Linked DNA regions of Homo sapiens. The protein of the gene in region 3 interacts with the protein of the main gene of each other region in a pairwise test. Each region holds a gene or a part of one and is shown on either strand. Other genes may lie near its edges. The genes, in order: RALA, CRY1, PPP2R1B, RORC, CLOCK and UNC5B.

What was found.
Region 1: the proteins of PPP2R1B (region 3) and RALA interact in binary tests that used the Homo sapiens proteins (3 or more experiments, as listed by UniProt).
Region 2: the proteins of PPP2R1B (region 3) and CRY1 interact in a two-hybrid assay, tested with the Homo sapiens proteins (one study listed by BioGRID).
Region 4: the proteins of PPP2R1B (region 3) and RORC interact in a two-hybrid assay, tested with the Homo sapiens proteins (one study listed by BioGRID and IntAct).
Region 5: the proteins of PPP2R1B (region 3) and CLOCK interact in a two-hybrid assay, tested with the Homo sapiens proteins (one study listed by BioGRID).
Region 6: the proteins of PPP2R1B (region 3) and UNC5B interact in a two-hybrid assay, tested with the Homo sapiens proteins (one study listed by BioGRID).

Annotation. Positions count from the first base shown.
Region 1 is NC_000007.14:39,629,320-39,634,198, forward strand, and holds part of RALA (ras-related protein Ral-A precursor), read left to right. Parts: intron 1-2,576; exon of another isoform or gene 2,577-4,879. UniProt on the Homo sapiens protein: Multifunctional GTPase involved in a variety of cellular processes including gene expression, cell migration, cell proliferation, oncogenic transformation and membrane trafficking.
Region 2 is NC_000012.12:106,991,569-106,996,447, forward strand, and holds part of CRY1 (cryptochrome-1), read right to left. Parts: intron 1,469-4,879; coding exon 1,397-1,468; intron 1,323-1,396; coding exon 1,219-1,322; exon of another isoform or gene 434-1,218; coding exon of another isoform or gene 370-433; 3' UTR 1-369.
Region 3 is NC_000011.10:111,748,662-111,753,234, forward strand, and holds part of PPP2R1B (serine/threonine-protein phosphatase 2A 65 kDa regulatory subunit A beta isoform), read right to left. Parts: intron 3,672-4,573; coding exon 3,498-3,671; intron 1-3,497. UniProt on the Homo sapiens protein: The PR65 subunit of protein phosphatase 2A serves as a scaffolding molecule to coordinate the assembly of the catalytic subunit and a variable regulatory B subunit.
Region 4 is NC_000001.11:151,807,165-151,812,043, reverse strand, and holds part of RORC (nuclear receptor ROR-gamma), read left to right. Parts: intron 1-609; coding exon 610-719; intron 720-4,410; coding exon 4,411-4,572; 3' UTR 4,573-4,879. UniProt on the Homo sapiens protein: Nuclear receptor that binds DNA as a monomer to ROR response elements (RORE) containing a single core motif half-site 5'-AGGTCA-3' preceded by a short A-T-rich sequence.
Region 5 is NC_000004.12:55,452,448-55,457,326, forward strand, and holds part of CLOCK (circadian locomoter output cycles protein kaput), read right to left. Parts: intron 3,854-4,879; coding exon 3,771-3,853; intron 3,557-3,770; coding exon 3,450-3,556; intron 1,378-3,449; coding exon 1,230-1,377; intron 951-1,229; exon of another isoform or gene 683-950; coding exon 607-682; exon of another isoform or gene 1-606. UniProt on the Homo sapiens protein: Transcriptional activator which forms a core component of the circadian clock.
Region 6 is NC_000010.11:71,218,129-71,223,007, forward strand, and holds part of UNC5B (netrin receptor UNC5B isoform 1 precursor), read left to right. Parts: exon of another isoform or gene 1-100; intron 101-1,479; exon of another isoform or gene 1,480-4,879. UniProt on the Homo sapiens protein: Receptor for netrin required for axon guidance. Mediates axon repulsion of neuronal growth cones in the developing nervous system upon ligand binding.

The DNA.
Region 1 (4,879 bases), on a different chromosome or scaffold from region 3:
ACTTCTATTACAAGTGAATTGAACATGTTTTCATATGTTTAAGGGTCATTTTAATATTTATTTTTATTGTTCATATTATTTGCTCACTTTCTTTTCTTTTCTTTTTCCTTTTTGAGATGGAGTTTCGCTCTGTCGCCCAGGCTGGAGTGCAGTGGCACGATCTCTGCTCACTGCAACCTCTGCCTCCCAGGTTCAAGCGATTCTCCTGCCTCAGCCTCCTGAGTAGCTGGGATTACAGGTGCACGCCACCACGCCTAGCACGTTTTTGTATGTGTGTATGTATTTATTTATTTATTTTGAGATGGGGTCTCACTCTGCCAGGCTGGAGTACAGTGGCGCCATCTCAGCTCACTGCAACCTCTGCCTCCTAGGTTCAAGCGATTTTCCTGCCTCAGCCTCCCGAGTAGCTGGGACTACAGGCGCGTGCCACCACGCCTGGCTAATTTTTTGTACTTTTAGTAGAGATGGGGTTTCACCGTGTTAGCCAGGATGGTCTCGATCTCCTGACCTCGTGATCCACCTGCCTCGGCCTCCAAAAGTGTTGGGATTACAGGCATGAGCCACCGTGCCTGACCCTAATTTTGTATTTTTAGTAGAGATGGGGTTTCACCATGTTGGTCAGGCTGGTCTCAAACTCCTGACCTCGTGATCCGTCCACCTCAGCCTCCCCAAGTGCTAGGATTACAGGCGTGAGCCACCATGCCGAGCTTTCTTTTACTTTTTTTCTTTTTTTTGAGACAGAGTCTTGCTGGACCCTCCAGGCTGGAGTGCAGCGGTGCAATGGTGCGATCACAGCTCACTGCAGCCTCAGCCTCCAAGACTCAAGTGATCTTCCCACCTCAGCCTCCTGAGTAGCTGGAATTATAGGTGCATGCCACCATGCCTTGCTAATTTTTTTTTTTTTTTTTTTTTTGTCAAGATGGGGTTTTAACATGTTGCCCAGACTGGTCTTAAACTCCTGGGCTCAAGCAGTCTGCCCACTTCAGCTTCCCACAGTGCTGGAATTACAGGCATGAGCTATCGTGCCCGACCAATTTGCCCATTTTCTATACGACTTTCAGTCTTTTTTCCTCTCAGCTTTGAAAAGTTCTCTCTATTTAAGAATATTAACCGTTTAATTTTGACATATGTTGCAGATATTTTTGCTAGTCGTCTTTTGGCATTGCTTGTGGTGATTTTTTGCCATGCAAAAGATTGTTTTTATATAGTCAAATATATAAATTTTAAATTTACTGCATCTGAAGTTTTAGTCATATTCAGGAAACTTCTTACCTTCAGGTTATAGAGAAATTCACACATGCTTTCTTCTGGTACTCATATAGTTTCATTTCTCACATTTAGTTCCATTCAGAGTTTATTTCTATGTATGATATAAGGAATGCATCTAATTTTATCCTTTTCCAAGTGGCTATCCAGTTGCCCCAATGACATTTATTTAAAAAAGAAAAAAAAATTCTTGTTCCTTCTATATGCAGTTGGGTATATTTTTTTTCTATTGGATTATCTCACCATTCATGCACCAGTACCACATCATTTTAATCATAGAGGCTTTGTAGTATGTTTTAATGTTTGGTAGGGCTAGTCACCCATTATAGCGCTTCCTCTTCATTGTTTTTCTTGCCTTCTTGTATGAATTTTAGCATCAATTTGTCTAAGTCTATGAAACAATTCATTGCTGGTTTTTTGTTTTTGTTTTTTTTTTTTTTGAGACAGAGTTTCACTGTGTCACCCAGGCTGGAGTGCAGTGGTGCGATCTCAGCTCACTGTACCCTCTGCCTCCCAGGTTCAAGCGATTCTCCTGCCTCAGCCTCCCATGTAGCTGGAACCACAGGCGTGTGCCACCATGCCCAGCTTATTTTTTTATTTTTAGTAGAGACAGGGTTTCGCCATATTGGCCAGGCTGGTCTCAAACTCCTGGCCTCAAGTGATCCACCTGCCTCGGCCTTCCAAAGCACTGGGATTACAGGCGTGAGCCATGGTGCCCGGCCTCATTGCTGTTTTTATTGGGATCACATTGAACTTATACTAACTTATGAAGAACTGACATCTTTTTTTTGGAGAAAGGGTCTCCCTCTGTTGCCCAGGCTGGAGTGCAGTGGTGCCATCATAGCTCACTGCAGCCTTGAACTCCTGGGCTCAAGTGATCCTCCTGCCTCAGCCACCCAAGTAGATGATAGTACAGGTGTGTGCCACCATGCCCTGCTAGAGAATTGACATCTTGATGGTATTGAGACATCTTAACCTAAAACAAACAATGTCTTTTTATTTTTTGCATTCTACTTTTGTGTCTTTGAGGAATGGTTTATAGTTTTCTTCATACAAGTTTTCAACATTTCTTGCTTATTCCTAAGCTATTTTATCTTTTTTGTTGCTATTATAGTTTTCTTATCATTTATGTATTTTAACTGGTTATTGTCCATTTATACGAATATTGTTGATTTCTGCATATTTTCCTGCCACCTTGCCAAATTGTTACTAAGTTGACTATGTTAGCCTCTTTTGCATTGCTATGAAAGTATACCTGTGACTGGGTAATTCATAAAGGAAAGAGATTTGTTTGGCTTACGGTTCTGCAGGCTGTACTGGCATGACACCAACATCTGCTTGGCGAGTTGAGGCCTCAGGAAGTTTTTACTCATGGAAGAAGGCGAAGGGTGAGCAGGTGTGACACATGGCAAAAGAAGAGTGAGAGAGAGGAGGAGGTTCTGGGCTCTTTTAAACAACCAGCTCTCATGTGAACTAATAGAGTAAGAACTTGCTCATTACTGTGAGGACAGCACCAAGCCATTCGTGAGGAATCTGCCCTATGACGGAAACATCCCCCGACTAGGCCCGCCTCCAACCTTGGGAATTACATTTCAACATGAAACTTGGAAGAGACACACATCCAAATCATATCAATTACTTCCATCATTGCTTCTCTCAGACTTTCCAGATATACTATTGTGTCATCTGTAAATAGTTTTTTTTCCTTCTTTTCCAGTGTTTATGCCTTTAACTATTTATCTAATTGCACTGACTAATATCTCCAGAACAAGATTAAATAGCAGTGTAACAATGTCTTTAATAGAGGTACTGATTGCTTCATTGTATTATCTTCACCATGGATATACAAATGTGTACATTTCAATGTAGATAATAGTTTGGCTATGTATATACCTTACAAGGGTTGCACACAGTCCTTCGCTGTGTCTTTAAGAGATGCTTATGGAGATTGGCTGGGCGTGGTGGCTAAGGCCTGTAATCCCAGTACTTTGGGAGGCTGAGGCTAGCAGGTAGCTTGAGCTCATGAGTTTGAGACCAGGTCGAGTAAGATGGTGAAACCCTGTCTCTACAAAAAGTACAAAAATTAGCTAAGTATGGTGGCATGTGCTTGTGGTCCCAGCTACTAGGGAGCTGAGGTGGGAGGATCACTTGAGCCCAGGAGGGGAGGCTTCAATGAGCTGAGATCATGCCACTGCACTCCAGGCTGGGTGACAGAGTGAGACCCCATCTCAATTTTTAAAAAATTAAATTTTAACAAAAGATACTTAAGGAGATGGATGTGGTAAGAAGCAGGAAAGGTCAACTTTCCTAGTGCATGGTAGGAAAATACGGTGTTTAGCATGGTAACTGCTCCATGGTTTCTCAGTTTATACAAGCAGCCCTGAGTTTTCTTGCTTCTCTACACAGTTTTCTGGATTTCATTTTGTTTTTTACCCAGCTAGTTATAGATGCCACAGGGTGACCTCCTTTTCCCTTCTAGGCTAAAGCTGTCATAGGTCTATGAAAATCTAGGGATTCCCTTCTAGGCTTCACAGTCTTAAGTGGTGTGTGTGCTTTGCAGATGAGCAAGGCTTGTTTTGTATTGATATGTTGCTGCCTTGACTTCTTGGATTTCTAGATCATATAGCAAGGTAAATGTTAGTCTGTTCTCGCACTGCTATAAAGACATACCCGAGAATGGGTAATTTATAAAGAAAAGAGGTTTAATTAACTCACAGTTCCACATGGCTGGGGAGGCCTCAGGAAACTTAAAATCATGGCAGAAGATGAAGCAGACGTGTCTTACATGTCAGCAGAAAAGAGAGAGAAGGGGAGAGAGAGAATGAGAATTCATGAGAGTGAGCAGGAGCGAGCATGTGCATGCAAGAGCAGGAAAAACTGCCTTATAAAACCATCAGATCTCGTGAGAACTCACTGTCACGAGAACAGCATGGAGGAAACTGCTTCCATGATCCAGTCACCTCCCACCTAGTCCCTCCCTCAACAAGTGGGGTTATGGCGATTATAATTCAAGATGAGATTTTGGTGGGGACACAGCCACACCCTATCAGCAGGTTTGTAATTAGATGAGTTTATCCACTGGGGGGTAATCCTAGAGTACATATCTGTGGGTGGTTCTTGACAAGTGTGTAAGGCCTGGGACATCTGGCTTTGAGGCAGTTCTTTCTCCAGGTTTTATTTATGCGAATCCACTCATCTGGCAGGAATGATTTGTTGGTGTGAAATCAGGTGTTGGCCCAGCATCCTGCACATGTTCCATCCACATGGCAGTGATGGTCATTGCACACCAGTGCTTGGTCTCCCAAGTTCTGGAGAGTGTTTTTATTTCACTGCCATCTAATTTATCCAGAAAGTTCAAGTAGCGTATTTTCTGTAGATTCTTATAATTTCAAGATTACCAGGTCCCTGTGTGAACTCTCAGACCACATCCTGTTGCCTTTCTCTGTCATTCTATTGTTTTCTCTCCCAGGAGGGCTGGGTGGTAGGGTATTTATTAATTTATTGCCCCATATACTAATGAGTTCCTTCCTAGAACTCCTTACAACTCTCAGTCCATGGCCTGTTGTCCATCTTTGCTGTCCCAGGAGTGCTGGTAGGTAGAGTATTTAATGAT
Region 2 (4,879 bases), on a different chromosome or scaffold from region 3:
AGAGTGCAAAGTTAGATCAAACAACATCAAGAAAATTCTGTCCTAAAATTTTAACGTCTTTTAAGAAAGTCTAAAAACCTCCTTTTTTCCCACTGACTTCAAAACTTTGAGTTTTATATCAGAATATCAATTTGTCATTTTAACTTTACCATACATGAAAAATTATCAAAAATATATCGATGGGTCTATACTAATTGTGACTGTTTATATTTACATTAAGCAAATTCTCTTGCCAAGTTCTTTATATACAAATTACCAATTGTCCTCTGTGAAATTCATTAAAAAGTTAAAAACCACAGAAATGTCATTAGAAACAACATATTTCAATATGTAACTGCTTTCCATCAATGAAGAATATTTTTAAATAACTTAATTGAAAAGTATTGAACTCCCCACCAATTTCAGCTGCAACAGTATTCCTCCTGAATGTTTTCTGTGATTTAAGGGGGAAAAAAAAACTAGGTAAAGCTTGATTGCAAATAATTCAATGACAAAAATGTGATGAGTGTTTATTGACCTTATCTTCAAGATACTTATAGTCTAATTAGGTTGACATAAAAAAACTAAGCAATAAAAAATGTAAACAGTGTTAGAAACTGAAGAAACAGAAAATTTTTAAAAACTGGCAAATCCAACGTATAAATATTTTTCATATTAATTTAAATCACAAAATGACATCCCAAATCCAATTAAATTGAATGCAGGCAAGGCTTTCTGATACTTCTAATAAGGGCCAGCATTTTAAAAAATTTTGAACTATTCCCAAATTGGAAATAATTTAGATTTTAGAAGCATCATAACAGATAAAAGAAATTTATCAACATTTAAGAGGCAAAGATTTAGGGGAAAGTTCATAAAAAGATTATATTAATGTCACTAAAATAAACAGGCCACTTTAATTGTTTTAGACTCATAGTTACATAGTAAGGAAATAAAAAAGTTGTCTTTTTCTAAGAAAAAACTTGACCACAAAATCATAAACATCTCTAATTTAAAGAGCATTGGTTCAGATGAATATAAAACTGGTGCAACAATTTCTCCAGTACAGATGCATGTCTCTTGACCAAAAATTAACTGAGTTTGTAAAAATTGCTTAAAAATTAATGCCTCAAGATTTTCTGGTTTGAAAATAGAGATTTGCTCCATTTTTGAAATTATCTTAATTTATGTTAATTATATACTCTTCTAAAGCAAGAAATACAGCTCTAAAATATTTACCTAATTAGTGCTCTGTCTCTGGACTTTAGGACCAATACTCTGTGTGTCCTCTTCCTGACTAGGACGTTTCCCACCACTGAGACCAGTGCCCATGGAGCTTCTTCCTGCACATTTAAAAAATGTATGTTTAAGATAGGAAAAGGAAAAAGAACAGTATGCTCCAATGCTTCATTCTTACCTTGCTTCAACAGGTGAGTTTGCTGACTGTCGCCATGAGCATAGTGTAAAATACCACTCCCTTGAGAGCAACCTGTTAGTATTTAAAACACAGTAAAATTACTTAAAATCAAATCCAAGATGTATGTATTATTAAGTCTACAAATCCAACTTTTAGCGCTTGTACTTAAGGTCATTTATATGCTTTTAAGACTAAATCTCAATCTTCCTATGAACCAAAAATCACATGCTCAAACCAGGAAAACTTAAATTTAGGCTCACAGAAGTGTTGACAGCTCAAAGGAAAAATCATTGATGATCATTTTCTAAAAAACATTTCCTTACTAGATGACAATTTGAAACTTGACCATGAAGGTAAAACATAGGGGCAAGAGTGAGATAGACATTCCTCCCTCACTCTTGTCCCTTTTCCCACGCTTTTCCTTCAGAGCTCCTCCAAACATATTTCCTTGAGGATAAGGGAATAAGGGCCTGCCCGATGAGTTAAACAATTCAAATCATACGACAAGCAGAAGACACAGACTATGTGGCAGTTACCTAGCCTAAGCAATCCTATCAACCCTTCTAAAAACAAACACTATTATAGGAGAATAGGTTGGCTAGAACAGAGAAGTATGTTTTAGGGAAACATTTCTGTCAGTGTGTCCAGTTTATGGAAAAATATGAGCATTCTGGACCTATCCACGAGCAGGTGGATAGGTCAACACCTTATGGCCTGAACAAGACTGTGCACTTACTTTCGTTTTAATTAACTTCAATCCCAGGCAATCAGTGGCAGTTGCTCACCCTAAGTGAGTATGAAGTACTATCCCATAGTTGTTTTAATTTGCATTTCCCTAATGACTAATAATGCCGATGAACTGATATTTTACAATAAAAAAACCTAAAAGTTAAATAAAAACTAAAACATATTGCTACAGTAGTAAACATATTACAGTCTGTTTTATTATAAGAACAAAAGTAAGACTTCTATGTATAGTTTATTCCTTTCCTGAGCACATGTGCACACACACACAAATACAAAGATGAGCAGAGAAAAATGCAATTTGTGTTGCAGAGATTAAGAATGTTCCACAGTCATTAAAAAAACAAACAAAAACAAACAAACAAAAAACTAAGACAAGTAAAAGAATTTTGCCCTTTGACATGCCTTGTAAGGTACTATAAAAGCCTACAGACAGGATAAGTGTAAGGCATAAAAGGATATGCTTTAGAAGCATTTAAGTCCTTTCAAATGGGGCAGAAACCTGAGAGGAGAAATGTTTAATATTAATAGCATAGCCCAAGCCGTGTCTTTTCACAATTTCCCATTTCCAGGTCTAAAATGTTTTTTTCCTTCATCTGACTACCCAAATGCTACTCAATCCTGCCACCTTTCAAGAAAGTTTCTCTAGTCCCTTCAGCTCTCAATAATCTCTCCCTTTTCTCATATTGCACATGGAGGCAGCATCTTATAATTTATCACTTTTTCATTTGTTTTTGTTTTCCCTCCACACCCCCATTTATACTTAAGTTCTACTTAGCTTTTCATGTCTCATGTCTTTTGAAAGCCTCCAAGAAGCTGGCTACAAACTATGTTACAGGCAAATATTTACATGATTAAAATAATTTCAAGATTTATTAATTCTTCTATTATATAATAAACTACCCTATATACATTTGTGAAGCAAAATTGTCCCAATTTAACCTGCTACTATGATTAGCTTTTGAAGATAATTCCAAATAAACGACACAGGTTTGAGTGGTCTAAGAAGCAGTCTGTGCCATCATTGTGTATTAGCCCAACCCTTGGTTCCTAGCCCATTGCTACCTGCCTGTTATCTTAGTGCTTCACAGAGCTTCTGTCCCTCACTCATGTGTGGGCTGACAAGGCAGGCTGTGAACTGAACAAGAGATCTGAAAGAACTTTTGAAATGATTATCTTGTGGAAGTTTATTCAAATTGTAGGAGATACTGAGAAGGAACATTTCTCAAGTATACTGCCATCACTGGCAACTGTCGACTGCTGGGTGGATCACATTCCAGGAATAAAATATTTTCTCTTGTAAACACTTATGGCATTCCATTTGCAGAGGAGGCCCAATGATGCAGGAAGAAGTACAAGCTTTGGAGCTAGTCAGACTTGGATCTGAATCTTAGCTCAACTACTTACTAACTGTGGGATCTTGGTTAAGTTACCTAATCTTTCTAGGATTATTTCCCCAAATATAAAATGAGGATCCCACTACCTCCTCCCCAGGTTACTGTGAGAAAGTATGCAAAAATCCCTTACTATCTACTGGGCAAAGGTAGGCAGTCAAAATGTGAGTGCTTTTGTCCCCTTCTCCCAAAACTAATTCTTGGAGGATAAAATACATGCTGTTTTCATGAGGATGCAGGACATTTCTGAATTCAAAAAGGTTCAGTTTTTAAAAGGTTTTATTCTTAATATCAACTTAGAACATCTGACTTAAAAAAGCATTCCTCAAATGCTACCCTGTTTTTATCCTGTTTTTTTTATTTTGAAAAATATAGATTCACAAACAGTTGTAAAGTTAGTACAAAGAGGTCCTGTTTCCCTATCTTCTTAGTGACATCTTATGAAACTACAGTACAACAATATAACCAGGTATTGACATTGATACAAAGTGTTTGTATGATTTTATGCTCTTTTATCACATGTATAGATTTCTTTTTTCTTTTTTTTCCCTTCAATTTTTATTTTAAGTTCTGGGGTACATGTGCAGGATGTGCAGGTTTGTTACATAGGCAAACATGTGCCATGGGGGTTTGCTGCACAGATCAACCCATCACCTAGGTATTAAGACCAGCATGCATTAGCTATTCTTCCTAATGCTCTCCCTGCCCCTGCCCCCCCAACAGACCCCAGCATGTGTGTTTTGTTGTTTTTTGTTTTTGAGATGGAGTTTTGCTCTTGTTATCCAGGCTGGAGTGCAATGGCGCGATCTCAGCTCACCACAACCTCTGCCTCCTGGGTTCAAGTGATTCTCCTGCCTCAGCCTCCCAAGTAGCTGGGATTACAGGCATGCGCTACCACGCCCGGCCAATTTTGTCTTTTTAGTAGAGACGGGGGTTTCTCCATGTTGGTCAGGGGCTGGTCTCAAACTCCCAACCTCAGGTGATCCACCCACCTCGGCCTCCCAAAGTGCTGGGATTACAAGTGTGAGCTACTGCACCTGGCCCCAGTATGTGTTGTTCTCCGCATGTATCCATGTGTTCTCATCATTCTACTTCCACTTACAAGCAAGAACATGAGGTGTTTGGTTTTCTGTTCCTGCCTTAGTTTGCTGAGGATAATGGCTACAAGCTCCATCATGTCCCTGCAAAGAACATGATCTCGTTCCTTTTTATGGCTGCATAGTATTTCATGGTACATATGTACCACATTTTCTTTATCTAGTCTATCATCGACTGGCATTTAGGTTGATTCCACGTCTTTGCTAATGTGAATAGTGCTGCAATGAACATACGTGTGCATGTATCT
Region 3 (4,573 bases):
CGGGGCTTCCACACCACATGGAGAATGCTGTGACACACTTTCCTAGTGCCTCCCTTCTGGGGTCTACACATTTACAGTCTTGCTTCTTTGAACTCTAAGAAGTTCCTGACTGGTGATTCTATATTTTAAAAAAAGAGAGGTAATATAATGTGTCAGTGCTTTGAAAATAGTGATTGAATAAGACAAAATAGCTTTTTTTTTTTGAGATGGAGTCTCACTCTATTGCCCAGGCTGGAGTACAGTGGCACAATCTCAGCTCACTGCAACCTCCACCTCCCGGGTTCAAGTGATTCTCCTGCCTCAGCCTCTCAAGTAGCTGGGATTACAGATATGCAGCACATGCCCAGCTAATTTTGTATTTTTAGTAGAGACAGGGTTTCACCATGTTGGCCAGGCTGGTCTCTTAACTCCTGACTCAGATGATCCGTCCGCCTCAGCCTCCCAAAGTGCTGGGATTACAGGCATGAGCCACCGCACCTGGCCCAAAATTGCTTTGTACTAAAAGATCATAATGAACAAATTTTGGCATACACTTAGATTACGTCAGCCAAGATTTCTTTTTCATTTCAGGTTGAGAATTTTCCTTCAGTTTTAATTAACTTTTATTTTCCAGTTTGTTGTTGTTGTTGTTGTTGTTGTCGAGACGGAATCTCTCTCTGTCGCCCAGGCTGGAGTACAGTGGTGCAATGTCAGCTCACTACAACCTCCGCCTCCTGGGTTCAAGCAATTCTCCTGCCTCAGCCTCCCAAGAAGCCTCCCAAGTAACAGGCACCCACCACCACACCCGGCTAAATTTTTTGTATAGTAGAGATGGGGTTTCACCATGTTGGTCAGGCTGGGCTCAAACTCCTGACCTCAGGTGATCCACCCACCTAGGCCTCCCAAAGTGCTGGGATTACAAGCGTGAGCCACTACGCCTGGCCTATTTTCCGGTTTTTGTAGTTTAACTTTACACTTACTTAACATCGTCCACAAGCCAGGTCATACATAAAGTCTTGAGAGAATTTTATAAAATGACTATCTGATATAAAAATATTTAGATATGAAGAGAAATTAAGGAGAATATATATACTAACAAGAAGTTAAAATTGTAAAGCAAAATGTTCATGACTGAGGCATGTCACCCCTGCCAGACAGGTGTAAGTCAGCCAAAGACACCATCTGCCTTGCTTTCACACTGCTCTCTATAGAGCTAGCAACCCTGGGAAACTTTCCAGGTCTAGAAGGAGCAGAGGTTAAAAGAAATGGTACTAAAATGCACCCTCCCTTCCAGATAGTTTTGGTCTTCAGCAAATCAGTTAATCACTGCTCCTCTCCACTCTGAAAAGTAGATCCATGACAATCACCAGTGAAGAGAAGATGACCCATAGCACTTGGGAGTGACAGACAAAAAGGATGACAAAATAACTTCACCTGATCCCATTTGCCATGCACTAATACCTCTGGTATACTTTTCAAAGAATCGGACACTTTCAATTTTATAAAACATATAATGCCACAGACATCCACAAATTGCATGTTCATAAACTAAATGTACTAAAATTAAAAATACAAATTCAGGGGTTCAAGACAAGAAAAAATAAATTCCATATGTTGTGACCTGAAAGGAATGGAAGTGGGAGTGAGGAAGGGGAAACAAACTGTAGCGATGTCAATAGTAAACTGACACATCTTTCTCAAAAAATACTCAACAATCAACAAATGTTGGCTATACACAGTGGCTCATGCCTATTATCAGCTACTCAGGAGGCCGAGGCAGGAGGATCATTTGAGGCCATGAGTTCAAGACCAGCCTGGGCAACAGCAAGACCCTGCCCCCAAAATAAAAAATGTTAAGTGCCTAATTAATGACGGGCACTATGGTAGGGACTGGAAATAAAATACAGTCCCTGCCCTAAAAGAGATCACCCATCTCTCCAACTAGACTGTAACAGACAATTACAATACTCTGTAATAAGTGCTACCAACAGAGATGAAGGTACATCAAACTTAGAACTGTCTAGGCCACCTACTCAAAAAAAGGAAAGGATGTGGCTATAAAACCCAGCTTTGAAATTTTAACTAACATGGTATTAGTTAGGGTAACACTGATCACGAAACTCAAACAGTAACAGATAATGTGATAATGTGGACTTTGACCAAAATACTAACATTACAAGCTTCAGTTTTTGTTTTTGTTTTGTTTTTTTTTTTTTGACACAAAGTTTTACTCTGTTGCCCAGGCTGCAGTGCAGTAGTGCAATCTTGGCTCACTGCAGCCTTCGCCTCCTGGGTTCAAGCGATTCTCCTGCCTCAGCCTCCCGAGTAGCTGGTATTACAGGTGTGCACCTCCGTGCCCAGCTAATTTTTGTATTTTTAGTAGAGATGGGGTTTCACCATGTTGGCCAGGCTGGTCTGGAACTCCTAGCCTCAAGTGATTCGCCTGCCTCTGGCTCCCAAAGTGCTGGGTTTACAGGTGTCAGCCACTGTGCCCGGCCTTTCAATACTTCTTTTCTATATGGTGATTCCTCAACTCCCTTTAATCAGAATGTAGGGCAAGTGGTACCTAGGGACATTTTGCTTAGAATACAAGGCAAACAGGGAAGTTTCCTTGAGCAAAAATCACAGCAGACTTACCCTAAAACCATAATCCCTTTTCTTCTCAGTTAAACATTTCTTAAGTCACAAAGGCATTAAATATTATAAAATTTACATTATATATACCAAGAAACTGATTATTCTATGGCTTTGTTTTTCGGTGGTGATGAGGTGAAATATGTTTCTGTAATACAGATTAAGCATCCCAAATCCAAAAATCCAAAATGTGAAATGCTCCAAAATCCAAAACTTTTTGAGCACTGATATGATGCTCAAAGGAAATGCTCATTGGAGCATTCTGGACTTTGCATTTTTGAATTTGGGCTGCTCAACCAGTAAATATTTATAATGCAAATATTCCAAAATCCACTTCTGGTCCCAAACATGCTGGTCCCAAGCGTATTTAGATGAGGGATACTCAACCTATACCTTTTTGTTAGAAATGTATGCACTAATAGGCCAGATGCAGTGGCTCACGCCTGGAATCCCAGCACTTTGGGAGGCTGAGGCGGGTGAATCACCTGAGGTCAGGAATTCAAGACCAGCCTGACCAACATGGTAAAACCCCATCTCTATTAAAAATACAAAATTAGCTGGGTGTGGTGGCATATTCCTGTAATCCCAGCTACTTGGGAGGCTGAGACAGGAGAATCGCTTAAACCCAGGAGGTGGAGGTTGCAGTGAGCCAAGATTGCATCATTGCACTCCAGCCTGGGCAACAACAGTGAAACTCCATCTTAAAAGAAAAGAAACGTATGCACTAACAAACATAAAAACCATCCTATAGGTAACAAGAACAAGGCCATACTTTCATGCATCTAAACAAACATAAGCATACAGGCTACTAGGCCTCCTACTTGCCATGGTAAATTGTCACTATCTGACACTACCCTGCAGTTCATGGAGCAACACATACTCACCAGCTGGCCTGCCAGCAGCGGCATATACTCAATGATGGCCAGGCGGACCCTCCATTTGGCATCTTCTGCCAGCTCCACTATGGCAGGAAGGAGAGACTGAGAGAGCTGACGGATTCCAATCACTTCATTTACACAATCCAAATTGGAGATGATATTCAAACGAACGTCAGGACACTGCAAGTACACAAGCCCCAAAAGACCACATTTAAAAATCAAGTACTCTGCCCAACAGTCTCCTGTCAGGGTAAGATAAAAGGTGAGGTAAGACTCAGGTGAAAAAAAAATGGATAATCTTGAAGAAATAATAGTGAATACATAAATAACTCAAGGAACATAAATGATCTTAATCAGAAATTTCAATTAAAAGTCCGTAATACTAAAGACTACAAGAAAAGTCCGTAAGATGGTAAAGAGCATAATCTCTGGAACTAAATCAGATGCACTCAAATTTCAGATCTGTCATTGTTGAAAGACCTTGCTCAAGTTACTTTAACCCTCTATGCCTCAGCTTTCTCATCTGTAAAATGGGATAATTGGCCGGGTGCGGTGGCTCACACCTGTAATCCCAGCACTTTGGGAGGCCGAGACGGGCAGATCACGAGGTCAGGAGATCGAGACCACAGTGAAACCCCGTCTCTACTAAAAATACAAAAAATTAGCTGGGTGCTGTGGCAGGCGCCTGTAGTCCCAGCTACTCAGGAGGCTGAGGCAAGAGAATGGCATCAACTCAGGAGGCGGAGCTTGCAGTGAGCAGAGATTGCGCCACTGCACTCCAGCCTGGGCGACAGAGCAAGACTCCGTCTCAAAAAACAAAACAAACAAACAAACAAACAAAAAGGGATAATAATAAGACCTACCTCACAGGATTGTTGTGAGAATTGCATGTAAAAATACATGCAAAGCACTAAGGCTCATGCTTGCCATGTAGTAATTACTCAGTAAATATTAGGTATCATTATAATTTTTGATACTATATTTAAACTTAAATAAATGAAACTTTTTAAACAAAGACACATTAGCTTTAAAGAAACCAGGGAGTATAAAGCAAAAATCAGGTAAAGATGATAAACAGATAT
Region 4 (4,879 bases), on a different chromosome or scaffold from region 3:
GCCAGATGAATACTAAATATTCAGAGAACCTAGGGAAGTGGGTCAAGCTGCTAACCTGAGTTTGCAGATCGAGACTATCAGTCTTCTGGCTCTGCCAGTGAGTGGACACCTAAATATGCCCTTCAAACTAGAAGATAAAAACTTTAAAGATGACTTCTGGATATTTTATAGAATCAGGGCAAAAGTTAGTCACAGATTGCTGCAAGCCCCCTGGTGCAGGCCTGGGCACCTTCAGGAAGGCCACCTCCTATCAGGAGCCCTTTTCGTACATGGGGGAGCTCTTTTCCAACTCTTGTTACCCCTATGACAGAATCCTAGTGCCTAGCATTGAATGAGCTATGTGGAATATCAGGTTACCAGGGAGAAGGTAGCTTGGAGTCAGGAGATCAGAAATTCTCATACCTTTCATCTCTTCCCAGTTTTCCTTGTAGACAGCTAGCCAAGCCCAACGTCCAGAGCTTACCATTATCAAACCAAGGCACACACATGCACGCGCTCAGCTTAGAAGACCTCTATCCAGCACAGATGTCCACAAAGATACACCCTTTTGTTGGGAGTTAATGTCCATGTTCTTTCTTGTTCTCATTACGGTCCCACCCCCTCCTCCAGATCGGCCAGGGCTCCAAGAGAAAAGGAAAGTAGAACAGCTGCAGTACAATCTGGAGCTGGCCTTTCATCATCATCTCTGCAAGACTCATCGCCAAAGCATCCTGGCAAAGGTAGGAGCAGTCCCTGGGGTAGAAGAGGCCAGGCCCATCGCTAGCTCTGTAACATCAGAGTTTGCGAGGGCCGGGGTCTGTGGGTACAGAGGAGGGAGTGCGGGAGTACCACTCTCTGTTAGAGAGCTTGCATCAGCAGTGGGAACTAAGGGAATGAACAGCTACTTCCACGTGCATAAAGACTGGAAAGTTAGAGGGCCTGGGATTGGGAGGGACCTCCAGGGAACAATTCAGTTTAATATAGCCAGCACTTACCCAGCACCTGCTTGTACAAGGCACTGTGGAAAGACACAGAGATTTGGTCGCTGCCCCCACCAAGAGATTTTAATCTGGTATGAAGAAGAGATCTGTGTATCACTAACTCTAACATAGAGTAGAATGTGGTATGTGATATAATAATAATGCAATTAACAGAGTGCTTTTGCTGACATGCTTTCTCATCCTCATGGCAACCCAGTCAATAGGACAGGTGTTCAAATCTCCCTGTGTAGCAGCCGGGCACAGTGGCTCACGCCTGTAATCCCAACACTTTGGGAGGCCAAGGCGGGTGGATCACCTGAGGTCAGGAGTTCGAGACCAGCCTGACTAACATGGTGAAACCCCATCTCTACTAAAAATAAAAAAAATTAGCCAGGCATGGTGGCAGGCGCCTGTAGACCCAGCTACTTGGGAGGCTGAGGCAGGATAATCGCTTGAAACCGGGAGGCAGATGTTGCAGTGAGCCAAGATTGTGCCATTGCACTCCAGCCTGGGCAACAAGAGCAAACTCTGTCTCAAAAAAAAAAAAAAAATCTCCTTGTAGCTATCAGGAGACTTCAGTGACTTAAATGCAAGATTGAATCCCAGTGCTCTTTGCGCTCTTTCTATCCCTGTGTCCCCTATGTATAACTATAATAAGTGACACCAGGAAAATGTTATGAGAGTATAAAACAGGGATTAAAAATAATTTGGGGGTAAAAGGAGTGGGTCATAAATACTTCCCAGGGAAGATGACATTTATACTAGGCCATGAATGATGTAAGATTTTAACAGGCATTCATGGGGGTGGGGCAGGCATTCCAGGCTTAGGGAACAATAGGAGCAAAACAAAAAAAATGAAAAAAAATCCTTTTCCTGAGGTTTAACCAAAAAAATGGATGAGATGAGTATGAGAGGCTGGGGATAATTGTTTTATGGGATTTGGGTGTGGGACTAGGGTACAATGAAGACCAAGAACAACAGGAGAAAAATAAGGAGGCAAAATAGTGTGTATGTGGAGAATCACTCATGGTACATCCTCACTAAAGTGTAAAATCAGGAGCTGGGATAGACTGGTGGGGCAGAAGAGCACCAGATGATCAGCCTGAAAATTAGGTCAGGGGCAAATCAGAGAGGACTTTCAATGCCATATAAGCGTTAAAGCTTTATTTCTAGGCCACAGGGAGCTCCAAAGGCTAGAAAAATGACACAATCAGAGCTGTCATTTAGGCAATTTACTTTGGAACCAGTATAAAGGAACCATTTATGTAATTATTCAAGCAGGCCTTTGCTATGTGCCAGGCACAGGGCTGGGTGTTAAGGATACAGCAATGACTTACACGGTCTGTGCTCTCAAGAACTTGAACTTTAATCTGCTACAGGATGGATTTGAAGGAGGAGAGACAGGAATCTGGGAGAGCAATTGGAAAGCACATCCGGTTGGATCTGCTTTCAAAATACATCACCTTCCCTACTATTACCACCACCCTGGCCCCTACCAGCTCTCAGCTTTCACTTGGACTTTAAGAGAGGCCTCCTAACTGAGCCCCTGTTCCACCCTCATCTGCCCTGTAGCAACCACACCTACTCCGCACCCACGGTAGCCCTTTTAAAAATGCAATCTCATCATGCCCTACTCCTGTGGTTTTTTTCTTGTTTTTGTTGTTGTTGTTTGTTTGTTCTGTTTGTTTGTTTTGAGGCAGACTTGCTCTGTCGCCCAGGCTGGAGTGCAGTGGTGTGATCTCGGCTCACTGCAACCTCCACCTCCCAGGTTCAAGCGATTGTCCTGCCTCAGCCTCCTGAGTAGCTTGGATTACAGGGATTACACGCCCGGCTAATTTTTGTATTTTTAGTAGAGACAGGGTTTCACCATGTTGGCCAGGCTGGTCTCGAACTCCTGACCTCAGGTGATCTGCCCACCTTGGCCTCCCAAAGTGTTGGGATTACAGGCGTGAACCACCACACCTGGCCTTGACTCCTGTTCTCAGCCCTCCTGTAGCTGCCTGTGATGCCGAGAATCAAATCTAGAGTCTGCGTCATGGTCAAGTGGCTCATAACATGATCCCTGCCTTCTTTTCTCACTTGATCTTCCACTGCCCCTTCAAACACCCATTGCAGCCACACTTGCTTCCTTGCTATTCCTCGAACACATCAAACCCAGTCGCAGGGCTTTTGTACCTGCTATTGTAGTCACCTGGAGGGTTCTTCCCCCAGTTTTCCAAATGGCTTACCCCATCTCTTCATTCGGGAGAGGTTTTTCCTGACCAGTAACCCCATACAAAAAGCTTTAGTTTTCTTTAAAGAACTTATTATCTGATACACTACATATTTATTTTCTGGGCCCCTCACCAGAATGTAAATTTAATCAAGGTACAGATTATACTTTATTGACTGATATATCTGATATATCACTAGAGGCCATCACAGTGCCTAGCTCAGATCCAGATGTGTTCTCAACAAATATTTGTTGAATGAATGAAGGAAGCTATTGCCATAGCCCAAAAAAGCTCAGAATAAAGCAGTGGTGAGGAAGAGAGAGAATCTAGGAGATATGAAGGGATCACACCCTGCTGCCTGCTTTTCTCTGACTGCCTCTTTCCAAGGAAACTAAGCTGGGGGAGGGAGGCAATGGCAGGCAAGAGACATTTTTAAGCCTCTTGGTTGTAGAGGAGACTGCAAGAGATAAATTGTTCTTTCAGCCTTGCTCCAGTGAGGTCTCCCTGCCTCCGTCTGCTCACTGGTTTCTGTGCCTTTTTCATCTCCCCTTTGGCTGAGTGCTGGCAGCATTGGTTTGCTACTTGCAGTGTTAGGTGCCTGCTTAGAAAGTCTGTTTAGTTCAAAGAGTTATTAAGCATGTGCCATGTGCTAAGCATTATGATAGGTACAGAGGAGACAGGGAAAGAGAGACCTCAGCCAAGGAGCTGAAATCTAGGGTGGGAAGGCAGACAAATTGGACCATTTTCCTGCAATGTAGTAAGTGCTACACAGAGGAAAGCCCAAAAGAAGGGCCCTTAATCCAGATGGGAGGCAGTTAGGGAAATAGTCTTAGGAGAGGTGACACTAGAGGGTAAGGATTAGTAATGGGAAGAGGGGAACAACATGCACAAAGGCAGAGGCATGTGACAGCATACAACAAGAGTCACAGACAATCACTCTTATAAAAGCAGGAAGTGCACATTAGAGTCTTTGACAAGGTTCATTCTAGAAGTATTGGGAACATAAATTGAGGGCTTCACCCAGAAAACATTCACCTGTGCCCCACCCACTCTCACTTCCCTCCAGTGTCCTGAACACACACGTACTTCTACCAGTGGGATTTGGCTGGTGCCAAAGTGCCAAGTACATAAGGGGAAGGCAAGGAGGGTTTGTCCTAGCCCAGGAAGAATGAGCGGACTTCTTTGCTCTGAGGAGAGCTGAAGTATTGACCCTCCCTTCCCCATTAACCCATATCCAGCTGCCACCCAAGGGGAAGCTTCGGAGCCTGTGTAGCCAGCATGTGGAAAGGCTGCAGATCTTCCAGCACCTCCACCCCATCGTGGTCCAAGCCGCTTTCCCTCCACTCTACAAGGAGCTCTTCAGCACTGAAACCGAGTCACCTGTGGGGCTGTCCAAGTGACCTGGAAGAGGGACTCCTTGCCTCTCCCTATGGCCTGCTGGCCCACCTCCCTGGACCCCGTTCCACCCTCACCCTTTTCCTTTCCCATGAACCCTGGAGGGTGGTCCCCACCAGCTCTTTGGAAGTGAGCAGATGCTGCGGCTGGCTTTCTGTCAGCAGGCCGGCCTGGCAGTGGGACAATCGCCAGAGGGTGGGGCTGGCAGAACACCATCTCCAGCCTCAGCTTTGACCTGTCTCATTTCCCATATTCCTTCACACCCAGCTTCTGGAAGGCATGGGGTGGCTGGGATTTAAGGACTTCTGGGGG
Region 5 (4,879 bases), on a different chromosome or scaffold from region 3:
CCTTGATTACAGCCTCATGAAAGAATCTGAAGTAGAGGGTCCAGCTAAACTGTGCCTGGACTCTTGACTCACCAAACTAGGAGATAACAAGTGTGTTGTTTTATATCACTAAATTTTGGAGTAAGTTGTTACACAGCTATAGATAACTAATATACTATACTTCTGACCTGATATAACAAAAAAGAAACCAGAGTTCCAATTCTGACTATAATTTCCCAGCCAGTGTCTTTAGGGAAGATTTTTTTTTCCCCTCTTGAAACCCCAATTTCAGTATTTTCAAAGTGGGGATATTACCTACCCGATAAAAATATCTGATGTGTAAATTATATTTCATAATTCATATAAATAACCTAGCCAGAGACTAGTACATCACTGGGAATAAATGGTAGTTTTGAGATCAGACACATCTCTCATCCAATTTTCTTTTTAGAGGCAGGTGAGACTCTAAAATATTAAATTAAAAATAAGTAGTAAAGTATAATCACATCCCCGTTATAAGTGAGGAAATAAAGTATTTTTGAAAAATAGTTTTCCTATTAATTATTGAGTTTCATCTTTTATTGGGGAGAAATTAAAAATAATTTTTTTTAATTATAAGAAACATACTTTGTCAGCAGCTGTCTCAGGAAGAGACTCTTCAATGCCAAGTTCTCGTCGTCTTTCAGCCCTAACTTCTGCATAACTACAAATGGAAAAAATAATCAAATTTTAGTGTCTGGTCATTCGTTTAAAATACTGCACAGCTGTAACTATTCAGTGTTGTTACGTGTCTCATCTGTTCATCTAGACTATTTGCTATGTGCTACACAAACCTAAAATATACCTATAATGTCTTAATTTAACTTGCATTTTTCTAGGTATCTTAAAGTTTCATACACTGCTGTAAACGATCCATAACCACACAATACTTAAATTAAGAAAAATAAATAAAGGAAGTGTATGCTTATCTACCTACAGTTTTCCTTTTACATGACTGACATTACTACATAAATGACAGTAACAACTTCTGCTGTAAAGCACAAAATTTATATCAAGACTTATATATCTATATCATTCCTATATTTATATATAATGCCTATAAGTAAATTTAATAATATATTGAAAGGATCTATCAGCAATTGAGAAAAGAGCACTTTGTAGCTCTTTAACAACTTACGCATAAAAGTTACAATGCCAAAATCATCATAGGATGTTACAGTAATTCAGAAATTCTCTAAAAGAATTATTACCTTACTACAGTGTGAGTACAAACAATAAACTCTGGCCTTGAATTCCACTGATGGTAAGTGATATAATAATGAGTCTGAAGCCAAATCCACTGTTGCCCCTTAGTCAGGAACCTATAATAACATGATTTGCCTTTCCCATATTGCATTACTAAAAGGAAAATAGAGAAATATTTTTTCTTTAATTCATATTATATAAAGATTGTTTTTTAACCAAAAGCTATCATTTACATTTAAGTTTACACATACTATTATTTTTCTGGCCTTTTGATAACATATATGTCAATATGAAAATGTTATTCTTTAGAGCTAGTTTAAGGTCCCAAGCAATTATCAGATCTACAGTGCCCAATTCACAGCTAGTCACTGCTGATCTTACAATCTTTCCATACACAATTAATACTTAAGAATTCACACTGCTGACTTCCTCCTGCCTAGATATACAGAGGGTAATAACAATAAATAATCACCCCTGAGTTTTTTCTCCTAACTACTCTGGCAGGCACAGAATCTTTGAAGCATTTAATTTTAAACCTTAACTAACCAAAATCAAAGTAACTGAGTCTGAAGTAACTGAGTGCAGTAACTGCCAAAACATGTGCTGTGGATTTTAAGTTCTGAAGCGTTTTAACAGATATTAAACAAAAAAATGGGTTTTGGGCCAGGTGTGGTGGCTCACGCCTGTAATCTCAGTACTTTAGGAAGCAGAGGTGGGAGGATCACTTGAGGTCAGGAGTTTGAGACCACCCTGGCTCACATAGTGAAACCCCATCTCTACTGAAAATACAAAAATTAGCCAGGCATGGTGGTACGTGCCTGTAATCCCAGCTACTCACGAGGCTGAGGCAAGAGAATCACTTGAACCCGGGAGGTGGAGGCTGCAGTGAGCTGAGACACGCCACTGCACTCCAGCCTGGGTGACAAAGCAGGACTCCATCCCAAAAAAAAAAAAAAAAAAAAAAAAAGGGTTTGTAGTTAAATTAATTTGGGAAACTTTTTGTTAAATAGGTGTCTTCAGTTTTCTCAAAACCTAGAGTATGCTAATGCATGTGCAGATTCTCTGAGGGATTATGAAGTGTTTCCCCATCTTCCTTGACTATAAAGTCTTTTTTTATGGACCAACATTCGGTGGAACAAACCTTAGAAAATGCTAGTCAAGAATCTCTCAATCTGTCCCCCCACCCCCCAACCCCGCCGCCACCGCCTCTCACTCTCTAAGGAGGAAATCAAGGTCTACAAACAAACTTGCTGTCCAAAGTTACCCAGCTAGTTAATAGAGGTATCAGCTCTTTAGACAACATCATGGTGCTTAATGCCCACATCTTTTGTGCTGAAATGACTTTACTCTGAAAATTTTCCATAGAGTTAATGCTATTATACAACCTGCTTCATTTTCATACAGTGAGGTTTATAACAGCAGCATAAAACGTCATGAAAAGGTCTAAAATATCTAGTTAAGCTTTAGTGAACACTCAAGATGGTAAGCATCTGGGAGGAGGATCAGAGAAGCAAATAAAACATATCATTAAGGCAAACCTCATCATTAAAACAAACTTCTAAAATAAATACATGTGATAAAAAGAGTAGGCCTAGGCTCCAATCCTGTCTCTGCCACCAATGAGCTATGAAATTATGGGTGAATTACTTAGCCTTACTGTGTTCTCAGCTTACTCATGAAGATAATAATAGCATCTACCTTTTAGAACTGTGATGGAGAATAATGAAGATAATAGATGTAAAGTGTTTAGAACAGTGCCTGGCACAAAGGATGATAATGCTCCTGCTCTAACAACAATAATAAGCAGATAACACCAAGCACTTACTATGAGCTTTCTAAGACAGATTTTCCAGACATGTACCTAGCTCCTGAAAAGATTCACATGCCTCAAAATCAAAATTTAGGAAACAATACTCCAAAAGTTTGAAGTATTACAATTTTCAAAGGAATCTACTTCTCTTACTCCAGATATAGAGCTCACGTGCTTCAGAACAAGGTGTATTAGATGCAATATTATAAAATTCTACTTATTATAAAAATAGGAACAAGTTTAAACTTGATCTATGATTCCTACTACATTGGTTATATACATAAAGCAAAATCTTTTAGCATATTTCAAAAATATGAAAATGATTATAAATCTGTGTCTTACTACCTATCATTTCAGGACAGGACTTCTGCTTATAAAACAGTTATTATCACCAGAAATGTTAAAATCTACTTACAGTGCTCATGACATTTTGCCAAATTTTCTAGGTCATCCACATGATAGTAATCATAGCCTGATGTTCCCAGAACTTCAAATGGCAAATACCCTATTATGGGTGGTGCCCTAAATTACACAGAAAACAATCATTATTATAAGTTTTTCCATAATAAGAAATATTTCAACTAGAAATAAACTTTGGGGGGGGGGCTTTATTTTTCAAAAAATGGGAACAGGTTTCAAAGTCCTAATTTAAAAAAAAGTTTGCCCTTGATCCATTAATTTCAAGAATTATATAACATGACTATTACCTTTTCATGGAATTTAAAAATGGAATTACCTGTGATCTAGAAACAGAAACTTCCATTCTAAACTATGTCTAGATGTAAACTCTTCATTGGGTTCTTCAACAGTGCACATTTCCTACAAATAAATAATTAAAATTTATAAATACTTTGTGTCCTTAAGAATATTAAATATTGCTACATATAAAAATAAGTCATGGCCAGGTGCAGTGGCTCACACCTGTAATCCCAGCACTTTGGGAGGCTGAGGTGGGCAAATCACTTAGGTCAGGAGTTTGAGACCAGCCTGGCCAACATGGTGAAACCCGATTTCTACTAAAAATACAAAAAATAGCAGGGCACGGTGGCGGGCACCTGTAATCCCAGCTATTCGGCAGGCTGAGGCAGCAGGATCACTTGAACCCAGGAGGTGGAGGTTAAATAAATACATAAATAAATAGTCATTACTAGATAAACTTTTCCTAAACAAGTTAGTTGTTTCTATGTATGTATATATTTACCTATTTCTTTGTTTGACACAGGGTCTCACTCTGTCACTCAGCCTGAAGTACAGTGGTGTGATCTCAGTTCACTGCAGCCTCAACATCCTAGGCTCAAGCGATCCTCCTGCCTCAGCTTCCCAAGTAGCTGGGACTATAGGGATGCACCACCACGCCCGGCTAATTTTTGTATTTTTATTTGTAGAGGTGGGGGGTCTATGTTGTCTAGGCTGGTCTTCAACTCCTGGGCTCAAGCAACCTGCCCACCACAGCCTCCCAAAGTGCTGGGATTCTAGGCATAAGCCAAAATGCAGGCCCTTCTAAACAAGTTAATATATTTTAATTTTCCAGTACTAAAGAATGTGGTAATAAATAACCTTTAGATGCAAGCTTTTGGGTGGGTACTTCTCACTCTACACATTTTCCATTCACACATGCCTATAAACGCTTATTCAAAATTCAGACCTCTCTCCTGAATTACAGTTCCATATTTCCAAATATCTGAATGTCCTCATACATCTCAAATTCAATATGTCCTAAAATAAACTAACTGCTTTACTCCTCACACCCAATCACACAATTTTCCGTATTATTCTATACATGTGTAGTGGCCAGTGTCTAGAAATCTGATAGTTAAAAAAACATACTCTTTCATTTTTACCTTT
Region 6 (4,879 bases), on a different chromosome or scaffold from region 3:
GGGGAGGGTGGGTGTGGTGTTGCACTGGGGTGTCAGGTGTGTGTGGGGGCGAGGCATGGACTGGGTGTGTGCCGGAGGATGGATGTGTGTTTGAGGAGGGTTGTGCCTTTTGTAACTCAGGAGGTGTGATGTATAGGCTGTGTCTGTGTTTGGGTGTGTGTGGGGTGGGCAATGTCACATGGGCACACTTGTGGTGTGTTTGTGTATAAATAGGTATGTGTAATGTGGAGACAGTGAGTCACCACCAGGCATGGGAAGCTCCATCCATTGTATTCCGTTGGGGATTCCACTTCAGGATGGGACCCAGGCCATTTGCCCATCAGCACTTAAGAGACCTCATTTTGCCCCACACCTGCACTGTGAGCAGGGTTTGGCCTGAGTGCCAGGTTCTGCTGTTGGAAGGGCAGAGGACAGCTTCCCCTGCTGAGTGCAGATGGGATAGGCCTGCCTGCAGGTGGGTCCTGGTGCTCCAGGGGGAGGAAGGTTGGCAGAGATGGACCCTAAGCCAGCCCAGCAGCTTGGGCTACTGCCCCCAGGAAGATCAGAGTCCCAGACCTGGAGTCTTCTGCAGTCAACTCCCAGCTTCCCCAGAGCATGGGAGCGGCTGTGGTTTGGAGATCTGCTCTCTGACCTGGGTCAGCTTATGCTTCAGCCTGTCTCCCCCAAAGGGAGTGAGTTCTCCTCTAGAGTTTGCTGGAGAAGGGGCCAGCAGAGCTTGAGTGGGTGGGATCCCCAGTGGAGAACCCCATCTCAGGCTGACGTGGCTGGGGCCTGGGACTCTCAGCGGTAGCAATTTAAAGAGGACAGACACACCCACACACATGCTGGACTCCACTGTCGTTACAACTTTCTTGGTCACAGAAGCGCTTACCTGCTTTCCCAGGGCTGTCCACAGGAAGGACTTCCATCACTTCAACTCTAGGATAAGATGGACTGTTCTGGAGCAGGGAGGCCTATAGGAAAATCACAGTCCCTCGCCCCACCCTGGTGTGCATGTTGCTTTACAGTTTACAAAACCCTTTTATATGTGCAGTCTCACTTTGTCCTTGTAAGAACTCACCGAGAAGGTGGAAGCTCTCACTTAGAAGGCTGAAGAGACAGGACTGGGACCCAGGTTTGTATTAGTCAGGGTTCTCTAGAGGGAAAGAACTAATATATATATAAAGGAGAGTTTAGTAAGTATTAACTCACACGATCACAAGGTCCCACAATAGGCCTTCTGCTGGCTGAGGAGCAAGGAGAGCCAGTCCGAGTTCCAAAACCGAAGAACTTCTAGTCTGATGTTCGAGGGCAGAAAGCATCCAGCACGGGAGAAAGATGTAGGCTGGGAGGCTAGGCCAGTCTCTCTTTTCACGTTTTTCTGTCTGCTTATATTCTAGCCCTGCTGGCAGCTGATTAGATTGTGCCCACCCAGATTAAGGGTGGGCCTGCCTTTCCCAGCCCACTGACTCAAATGTTAATCTCCTTTGGCAACACCCTCACAGACACACCCAGGATCAATACTTTGCATCCTTCCATCCAATCAAGTTGACACTCAGTATTAACCATCACAAGGTCAGAACTCCTAAGCAGCCCTGGCCACAGCCCTCGAGGAGGTGCTGTCTGTAAGTGTTGCTGATGTCCACTCTAGAAATGTTAAGTGGCATTCAGAGCATTGCAGATGCCATGTGAGGGTGACAGATGATATGCAGGGAAGAGCATAGCAGAGCCAAGGTTTTAAGGCATGGGGCTTCCTGGGGCAGGTGATGAGTGCCAGACCTTGACTGTCCTTTTCCAGTTCTTCTGAGAGCATGTCCTGAAGAGAGGATGGGATGGGGGCTAGCTAGCTGGGTATGTGGGCAGGGGTGCCAGCCGACCTCTCCTTACTCTTGGGAAATTTGCCCCTGTTAGCATCTGCTGTGTTCACTATCTTGAGGTGGACACCAATCCTTGGAGAACAAACCCTCTGGCCCCATTCCACCTCCCAGCATCCCAGGTTCTACTGAATGTGTGCGCTTGGGTCACGAACCCTCTCAGCTGCTTCTGACTCTGTGGGCTAGGACCATGGCAGGCCCTGGAGGCAAAAGGCCTTCTTCTTGGATCTCTCTGTATGGCTCCCAAAGGTGGAACGAGCCCAGAAAATACTTTCTAAGCACTGGTAGGGATCATATTGGGGGTGGAGACATGGGGAGGTATCTCCCTACTTTCTGCCCTGCCCCCACCAGAGAACACAAAGTGGGTAAGAAGGGGAAGGATGGAATCTGCCTAGCACTTCTGTGAGCCATTTGGCAGGGGTAGGGGTGGGGAGATCCTTTGTCATCACCACCTCTGGGAACCCCCAGCTGCTCTCTTTCCACACACACCTCTCCCCGGGGCCTTAGCTGCGGGTGCAGAAGAGTGCATGGCATTGCCAATTGGAATTCTAAGGAGGTTAACACGGCCTCCCAGCATTGTCACTGACTAACTTGGTGACGTTGGGCAGCTCACCTAACTGGACTGTACCTCCATTTTCTCATCTGTAAAATGGGGGTAATAATAACATCATCCTCAGAATTGCCTTGAGAGTCTCATGAGCTGATGTATGGTAAAGCCCTTAGCACAGTGCCCGGCACACAGTGATCACTCAGGGCCTGTTGGCATGCAGCCTGCCCCGGAGAGAGCCTAGCAATGCATCATCATCTTCCTCCACGGGAGTGAAAGCTGGGAGGTCAGGACCAGGAGTCTCAGCTGCTCCTGGCTGAGGAGTTAGTAGACTCTGGCTCTTGATTTTCATTTGCTGTGAGACCCTAGGCAAGTGCCTTTCCCTCTCTGGGTTCTGATTGTTTGGTTTCCCTTCCCATCTGTAAGTCCGGAGTGGGGCAGAGGTGGAAGGATGATCCATACAGGATGTGGGGTTTTTGTCTGGTTCTATCTGAAGAGGCTCCAGCAGTCAGAAAGAAACAGAGGTAGCCGAGGTCCAGAACCACTTGTGTTTACAGAGGCCCCTCTGGAAAGTCAGTATATTGACTGGAATGCCCTTGCACGCATTATGCAGCCCTGGGTGTCTCTCTCACCGAAGCCATAAATCACCCTCTGGGAACTCGGTCCCTTTTTCCTGCTCCATAAGCATTTCCTGCTTCAGAAACTGAGAACCCCAGATGCCAAGCAGGGCCCAGGAGGTAGAGAAGGGCCCCACTGGCAGAGGCAGCCTGGGCATGTGCGAGAAGGGGCCTGTGGTCCCCCCCCTTGTCACCCACTCCGAAGCTCAAGTGCGCCCTGCTGAGGGTGTTAGAGACAGACTTTGCAGGCCTGGCCCCCGTGTCATGCATAGCTTCATTTCTCAGAGGCAGGGGGAGGCCAATCTTGGGGGTTGGGGAATGAGGACTCCTGTCTCCATGTAGGGTATCAGAACACCAGCCCACCCTAAAACCTGATGCACATGCCCATTCATTCAGCCTGAGCAAGTGCTGAGCTCCGCAGTCAGAAGCTTAAAAACCATGGGCCTGACTCTTGAAGAACTGATGGGCTTTGTGCTGCTTCTTGAAGCATGGGCCAAGTGCCTGGCCTGTGATGCTGGGGTGCAAGGGGGATTAGGATGATGCAACAGATATGAATCATTCAAGCATGAGCCAAGATGTGTGTGTCTTGGGAGGGGTCTTGCGCGATGTTTAGAGGGCAGGCTGTGCAGTCACATTACTTGGGTTCAAATCCTGGCAGTGCCACCATCTGGCTGTGTGTCTTAGAGCAAGTTGCTTACCCTCTCTGAGCTTAGTTCTGAGCTTAGTTCCTTCATTTGTAAAATGGGAGTAGTAACAGCACCAATCTCATTAGATTTGGGGATAAATGAGATCATGCTTAAAAGTGTGTTGCATATTCTGAAGTGCTCAGTGACATTCACTACTGTCATCATCATCATCATCATCATCATCATCATATGGGCACCATGTATTGCGTGGAACGAAGGGAAATGTCTGGATGTTGAGAGGAAGAAGCTCTTGTGGTCTGGGCAGTCAGAAAAGGCTTCCTGGAAGAGGGAAGGTTTGCACTTGACTGGCCCTTGAAAGATGAGAGACTTTGGGTAAATGGAGAGTGTGGCCCTGGTAGGGGATGTGTACGTGAAGGTATGGGTGTGAATGTCTGGCACATCTACCCAGGAGACAAATTCTACATTCAGCTTCTGACTCGTGTCTGATCATCTAGCAACTCAAGACTTCTAGGGCCAGAGGTCTCTTAGTGGAAAGAGCCCCAGCCTTTAGGATTTGAATCTTCCAGAGGTGGCTCACTCTCTGTGCCTCAGCTTCCCAATTCATGAGATAGGCATGATTCCACCACCTTCACCAGGTGCTGATGTGACGTGAACACACACATATACAGTCTTGGCAGAGTGGGTGCTCTGTGGATTTCCATTGCCTTCCCTTCTCTTCCTGCCCCTCCTCCACCCCCCGATTTGGCTGACCTCTGGATAGGGCTAGGGCTGGGCCTGGGCCCTGATTCTCTCCCTGTGCATCTCTGGGCAGAACAGTGGGACAGAGAGTCCCAAAGTGGCAGTTTCCAGGTTGGCCAGAGAGCCAAGGAGAGGGGCAGGAAGAGAGAGGCTGCTTTTTCTGGTCCCTGGTGTTCACCTGGGCCTGCCCTGACCCAGGAGGCATCCCCAGGGAGTCTTCTGCTGAGATCACCCAGGAGCCTGCAACCCCCAGAGGCCCCAAGCGGCATCTGGAGGCATTACTGCCTTCAGGAGACAAAGCCCAAAGGAAAGCAGCTCTGTAATGCGATCAGAGGCGTCCGCCTGCCTGGCTGGGGACCTGGACACCCATGCAGGATGCAGAGCTTACAAGAAATTGAGTCAGGAATTCCAGGAAAGTTGTCCCTGACCCCCTCCCCCATCCCTATCCCACCTTTGGTCATTCTGTGACACAGCAGA